2 linked regions of the Homo sapiens genome follow. The protein of the gene in region 1 purifies or fractionates together with the protein of each later gene. This does not show direct contact. Each region holds a gene or a part of one and is shown in the gene's direction. Other genes may lie near its edges. The genes, in order: ZDHHC7 and REEP5.

Region 1 (3,431 bases):
ACGACGAGACGGTAAGCTTTGTTCTCGGCTGTGTGGACTTCATATGTGGTCCAAGCTTGAGTAAATGAAAAGTCCTAATGTCAACAATAGGTGCCTGTGGACTGACTCGGGAACGTAATGGGACGGTCTTGATGAGCTGCAACCAGCTCCCTGTGTTTGCTGTTTCTTTCATTCTGGGCAGTGCATATTTCTAGTCTCAGTTTGATTTGCAAGTCAGCAGAGCCAGGCAGATTCCCAGCTCCCAGTGCAGTCAGTAAATTTCAGGGAACTGACTGCCTTTAGGGCCTGGCTCTGCAGGCCTGGAGTGGCGCTCAGTAAATGTCTGTACACAGTAACTAACGAGCGACAAATGTTGGTGCCTGGCTGGGAGGGCCATTGTGGTAGTCTGGGCTGGCCACGTGGCTGCAGCCGGGCTGGGCTCACAGAGGCCACGGGGTCTGGATCGGGGCAGAGCTGGGAAGGAGAGTTCACTCACCTACCCTCCATCGAGCCCACACTGTGCTTGAGCACGGTGTGATTCTGAGGCTTGGTGGGGTCTGCCGAGCTTCCTGGAGCCGCTGCCACTTGCTTTTCTTTCTGCTTCCAGGAGATCGAGCGATTGAAAAGTGAGAAGCCCACATGGGAGCGGAGGCTGCGATGGGAAGGGATGAAGTCCGTCTTTGGGGGGCCCCCCTCACTCCTCTGGATGAATCCCTTTGTGGGCTTCCGATTTAGGCGACTGCCCACGAGACCCAGAAAAGGTGGCCCGGAGTTCTCAGTGTGAGGCGTGGCTCATCAGACTGAAACTTGCTCACAGACTTCCAGTTATTTATTTGGGGTCTGAAGGATATCAACAGCTCATCTGTGACCAACAGGGCAACTGGAACCTACACAAACCAATTGCTTGCAGCAAGCAGAGTTTTATATATTTATAGTCACAGATGGCAGAGGAAGAGGCTCTCAGTCCCCACCTGTACAACAACGGAAAGGTGTGTGGCCACACGAAGAAGCCAAACGCCGTGGCCTCCTGCAGAGCTGGGGCTTCTGTGGAGAATACTTCGGGTTATTACATGGGTTATTCAAATCCTGGGTCCTGAGCTGCTGTTTCCAATCATGAAGAAAAACAGTGAATCCAGTGAACAGGGATTCTCCAAGCAGTCATTTCAGGGGGCTCCTGCTGACCCCGCCACTCAGCAGTGCACTCCCCGGATCACAGCAGGGCGTTTACATAGAAAGACGTTTTGGTCTCGATTAGCTCCGATGCTTTGCACTGAAGTTGCAAAAGATCTGTGCACTGAACAGTGAAGGTGGCTTCCGGCACACTCCCCGCTGCCCCGGAAGAGACATCCTTTGACCCTCTCAGCAAGTCTGTGTGTGTGCGTGTCTGTGCGTGTGCGCGCGTGTGTGCATGTGTGTCAAAATTGCCAGTGTTGTTTAGGCAATGTAACATTTACCGGCTGTGTACAGCAAACAAGCTATTTTTTAGAAACCGACGTTTCAGGGAAGAGGGGAGAGAGCCGCGGGGTCCTGCCCGTGGTTACTATGAATGTATTGCTGTTGGAGGACATCTCGATCCAAAGAACAGCCGTTCCTGTGCGGCCCTTCGTTGCCCTCCTGCTTTCATTTTTTAAAGAAATCTTGAGTGCTTGAGGGCCTTGGAACTGATTTTTTTTTTTTGTTCCAGCCAAATTAGCAGTGTATAAATGGCACCTAGGTAAGAGCAGAGCTGCGGCTCGGTGACTTGATACTTGGGGCAGCCCGATGCTGTGTGTGGGGCAGGGGAGGCATCCTTACTGGAGAGGCAGGGCCCAGCCATTGGGCACCTCTGGGAAGGGGAGGGGACCATGAGGCAGCCAGCCCCTGGCAGGGGCGACTGTGCCACCGCAGGCAGCGCTCCAGTCGGGAATGGCCAGGATGGCGCCCTCTTGTTGGAGTTTTTGGTTAGCTTTTACGTTTTCTTCTCCACCCACGGCACAGGTGATAAAATAGGATCCTTGGTGCGGAGCTTAAAATTATGCCAGAAAGCCAACAGCTCCCCTCGTGGGGCCTTGCCTTAAACTTGCCTGGTTTGTACATTTTTTGCCGGACGCATCAAGAAGCAATCTGTGACAAAGTCTGAGGGTCTTCCTTTATGCTTGCCCTCCACACTAAGAGAAGTTGGCGTCTCCCTCCTGGGAATTGTTTTGCCTTTCTGTTCATCTGTGAACTGTTTTTTGTTTTTAATTACTCTGTACCCCATCCGAATCAGGGCTTCTACCACTGCTGATGCAAAACCACAAAGGGACCTACCTGAGCCACCGTCCTAGCCAAGCGAGCAAACCTGCAGGGGGTTTGGAAGTGGACTTGGTCACCGCAGAAGCGTGTGCGCCGTTGGGGGAAGAGCTGCGTCACAGCCAGAGGGACAAAGTGTGGGTGATCCTGGAGACGCCAGTTTCCGAGATTGTTCTGCATATTCATTTGCACATTGTTGTCTGGGTTGGACATGCGTGTGGGCTTCAGTGTGAGGCTTTTAATATGTATATCCTGTTATCAATAAAACAATTATCCAAGTGGTTGAATCCTGTGAGACTTGGCAAGTGTGTGCAAATCAAGTATACTTGACTTTTCAACCTCTTCTTTCAATGTAACTTTTATATGAAATAAAGTAATCAATTAACAGTTCTCAAATGGCTTCCAAAGCGCCCGTTCTTCCTGGATGGTGGTGTTTTCAGGGGGTGCCTTTCCGTGCTTCGTGGGCCCAGCCCCAGGCTGTTAAGGTCACTCCCAAACAGTTTCCAGAAACTCTAAATGCTTTTGTGCCCATGACAAGTGACCTGGGCACTCAAGCGCGACTCACAAATGTTGCCCAGTGAGTACTGTTGCTTGTTGAATGTTTAATTCGACTCCCATCGTTTTACTTAGTCCTTTTTTTAGTGCACGTTGAAATAAAAACAATGTTTCAAAATCTCCACAGTTCAGAATCTCAAGTACCTACAATTTGATTTTAATTCATTCAACAAATTTGTCTAACATTTGCACTGAGGGAACCAAAATGCCCACTTACCTTCCAGAGGCCAGATGGTCAGTGTGTGCCGCAGCCCTGCCTCGCTTACCTTTCAGAGGCCAGATGGTCAGTGTGTGCCGCAGCCCTGCCTCGCACGTGCTGTGCCTTGGGGCTCCTGGTGGCATTCCAGACACGCGGAAATGAGAAGGAGACTCGAACACGGAGGCGCACACCTGAGCCGGGCGGCTGCATGGGCAGCAGCCCTCCAGCTTGTGTTTGTGGCTCTGCCGAATTTTGCTGCAATATTATTTGTATTCCTTATATTAGATTGTTATGTAGGCTCATTGTATAGAAGGATGACGCTTGCATTAAAACAAAACAAAAATATCCTCCAAATAGGAAGGTGGCTAAATCCTATCTTCTATTGTACATGAACTTGGCTTGGGTATGGAAGCAGGGGAAAATAGCT
Region 2 (4,024 bases), on another chromosome or scaffold:
CTGCCTCAGCCTCCCAAGCAGCTGGGATTACAGGCATGTGCCACCACGCCCGGCTAATTTTTGTATTTTTAGTAGAGGTGGGGTTTCACCATGTTGGCCAGGCTGGTCTTGAACTTCTGACCTCAGGTGATCTGCCCACCTCGGCCTCCCAAAGTGCTGGGACTACAGGTGTGAGCCATTGTGCCCGGCCAGAAACCTCAGTTTTAAGCTTTTTTCTTCTCTCACCATGACTACATGGGGCACTTCACTTTTTTGAACCTCACGTTCCTGAGTGAGCTAGACCATCTCTTCCCTTTTTTCTTGTTTTGGGTAGTTTGTGATTGTTATGACACATAAAGACATTTTTTAAATTGAACATTGTGCTATTTTAAATTAAAACAATTAAATGCTTCAATAATATGAGAAGATCTATTAAAAAATCTCTTTAGCTTAATAGACTCATTGGCCTTTTCCTGGCTTCTTTCATATGCCTTGGTTTTCTGCAAAGTTGTGATCAGTGTATGTATTCAATTTGGAGTTCTTTTATTTCTACTTTTCAATGTTACTATATAGTGTTCTAGTATATTAACATGGGGACTTTAGAATTCATATTGTAGATATGAATTAAAAAAGAATTTTTTTTTCCTAGAAGAGCTGAACTGTTAGGCTTCCTGTTTTTCAATCTGTGGAACTTGACTAACATTTAAAAAATAATGAAATAGAATGGAATTTAAAATATCAGAATGGTTTCAGGAAATATCTATTTAAGTTTATATTTTTATGTGAAGATGTCTGTTTACTGGATCATGATGTAAAATGTATGCTTACCGAGGGTTGTGGCCAAAAGAATTTAAAAGCCACTGGATTAACAATGACAGTCCCATCACATTTTGAGGTTTTTACGTCATATTCTAGAAAAGACTGTTTAATTCCCAGGTGTGTCCTGAGAGTTGCTTCTTTTGGAAGTACATAGTTGTGAGCTATTGCGTTCACAAAACTAAGACCTTGAGTGAAATGTAATTACGTATCTCCTCTGCCCAGAATGAATGTACAGGAAACAAATTTTTATTATACTAATAATTAAATAAATCCAATTAAATATGGATAAGCCATACTATACCAAATGAAACACAGCGGGAGAAGAAATCTTACACATAAAGGATATACTGTGTTCTTTGGTTAACATGCTTGTCTACACTTTTCCTTTGGCCTTCTATTACATTCGCCAGCTTCTATCTGAAGGAAGCTAAAAAAATACAGACTTTGTGCATACATTACAAGCCATTTTTTAATAATCAGCTCTCTTAAATTCATTTTATATGATTCTTGTACTTTGAAATATTTGGGGCTGGGTGTGGGAGCCACCAGACTGCACTTTGGGAGGCCAAGGCAGGAGGATTGCTTGAGGCCAGGAGTTCGAGACCAGCCTGGGCAACACAGTGAGACCTTGTCTCTACTAAAAATTTAGCAAGTAGCTAGGTGTGGTGGTGTGTACCTGTAGTACCAGCTACTTGGGAGGCTGAAGTGAAGGGAATTACATAAGCCCAGAAGTTTGAGGTTGCAGTGAGCTATTATTGTGCAACTGCACTCCAGCCTGTGCAGAGACCCTGTCTCAAAAAAATAAAAATTTTGCCTAGTCTTGAAGTTCAAAGCAACATTCACCTTATTACTTGTTCCTCTCTCTGTCTTCCTCATTAGTAATCATCTCATTGAGCTACAATTTTTCCCCTTTTGGTTATTTTCTAAAACTCACACACATAGCTGCTTCTAATTAACTGTACAAGGGCTTTCTTAGTGAGTGACTGAGCATGATTTAGCAGCCTGACTGTCTCTTTGGGGAGCTGATGTTATGGAGTAGCCAATGTATTTGCTTTTTGAAAATTTTTTATTTCAATAGGTTTTTGGGTAACAGGTGGCGTTTGGTTACATGGATAAGTTTTTAGTGGCAATTTCTGAGATTTCGGTGCACCCATCAACTGAGCAGGGTACACTGTACCCAATGTGTAGTCTTTTATCCCTCACTACCCCCAGCCCTTTCCCCAAAGTCCCCATAGTCCATTGTATCTTATGCCTTTGCATCCTCATAGCTTAGCTCCCTGTCAATGTATTTTCAGTAGTTAACCTGTTTCATAGGCTAAACAAGATTCAGAGTTCTTTTATTTTACTGTTTCAGTCCAGCTCAGTTACGATAAATATCTAGATCTGTTAGGATAAGAAATTGTGGAGCTTCAGGTTTAGAATAATGAGATTCCTAGGACTGAAGGAAATTTCTGTGATTTAGAAAATTATTTTAAATGTATTTCCATCCATTTGCAGAATGAATTTTGTTTAAGCAATAGTTAGGGTTGGGAAAGTCCTGTTATTAACTGAGGAGAGGAGGAAAGTCCATAGCCTGTGGATCAGTTAAAGACATTCTGAACTAAATAGACACCATGAGGTTTGTTTTCACCCGTTTACTATAAAATATGCTGTGGATTTTGGGCAGTACCTAACCTATGTTCCAAATGTTGCTTTATGGGAAATTCTTATTCACCCATGATATATCTCAATTATTAAAAGTACATAAGAACCTGGTTATCACGAGAGAATTCTTCCTGATATATCCCTCGTGGCAGGACCCAGCTTGGGAGTGGAAATTGCTCTAGCTCCCAGTCACTAGTGGTATATTCTAGGACTTGTGGGGAGGCTTTGGCAGGGTGGAGATCCAGGGCAGTAACAGCTGGTGCTGGTTTCTCTGGTGACCAGGAGACTAGAAACAAGTGGTTATAATGGCTTGTCCCGATATCCACATTGCTTCCAGTCTTTAAGCTGTACTCTTGCATCTAGTGACACAGTGCCTACATGTGCCTAAGTTTCTCAGTGGTATCAGAGGACAGGTTATGAAAGTGTATTTGAAAATCTTTCATTGATATCTTACCAAATGATATACTTTCTTTTGTACTGCCTTTCAGAATTAAAGCTATAGAGAGTCCCAACAAAGAAGATGATACCCAGTGGCTGACCTACTGGGTAGTGTATGGTGTGTTCAGCATTGCTGAATTCTTCTCTGATATCTTCCTGTCATGGTTCCCCTTCTACTACATGCTGAAGGTATGTTGGTCTTGCTACCACTAAAACTCCATCTCAGTACCTGTATAGAAGAAGTAGGAATAAATGCTTGAATGTTGTGCATCTGTGGCTCTGTCTCAGATTATAAACAAGAAGACAGGCCTGGGCAACAGAGCGAGACTCTGTCTCAAAAAAAACAAAAACAAAAAAATGCTCAAGCAAGCCACTTGCCTCAGCCTCCCGAGTAGCTGGGACCATAGGCGCACACCACTGCACCTGGCTACTCTTTTAAACAATTTTATCTAAAGAAATTTAGATATAGGAAATTAAATATAGGAAGCTCCATCACTCCAACCACCATCATAAATGGTAGTATCTTGAGTTTTAGTTCTGGTTAATTATGGATATATAATTCTTTTTGTCTTTGGTCTTAGCCTTTTTTTTTTTTTTTCTTTTTTTGAGATGGAGTCTTGCTCCGTCGCCCAGGCTAGAGTGCAGTGGCATGATCTTGGCTCACTGCAACCTCCACCCCCCAGGTTCAAGCAATTCTCCTGCCTCAGCCTCCTGAGTAGCAGGGATTACAGGCGCCCACCACCATGCTTGGCTAATTTTTGTATTTTTAGTAGAGACAGGGTTGGTTTTTTTAAAAATCTATTTATTTGTACTTCTTCTGGGAGATTTCTCAATCTGACCTCCTTTTTTTTTTTTCTGAGATGGACTCTTGGTCTGTTGCCCAGGCTAGAGTGCCATGGTACAATCTCCGCTCACTGCAACCTCCGCATCCTGGGTTCAAGTGATTGTCCTGCCTCAGCCTCCCGAGTAGCTGGGATTACAGGCATGTGCCACCACGCCTGGTCAATTTTTGTATTTTTTTTGGTAGAGAAAGAGTTTCACCATGTTGGCCAGGGTGCTCTCGAACTCCTGACCTTAAGCAATCCACCCACCTCGGCCTCCCAAAGTGCTGGGATTACAGGCGTGAGCCACCGTGCCCGGACTC

Evidence for each region.
Region 2: the proteins of ZDHHC7 (region 1) and REEP5 purify together in Homo sapiens (affinity purification with mass spectrometry, with the first as the bait; one large-scale study listed by BioGRID). This does not show direct contact.

What each region holds. Positions count from the first base shown.
Region 1 is NC_000016.10:84,973,675-84,977,105, reverse strand, and holds the end of ZDHHC7 (palmitoyltransferase ZDHHC7), read left to right. Parts: coding exon 1-11; intron 12-586; coding exon 587-763; 3' UTR 764-2,931; downstream 2,932-3,431.
Region 2 is NC_000005.10:112,901,425-112,905,448, reverse strand, and holds part of REEP5 (receptor expression-enhancing protein 5), read left to right. Parts: intron 1-2,930; coding exon 2,931-3,069; intron 3,070-4,024. UniProt on the Homo sapiens protein: Plays an essential role in heart function and development by regulating the organization and function of the sarcoplasmic reticulum in cardiomyocytes.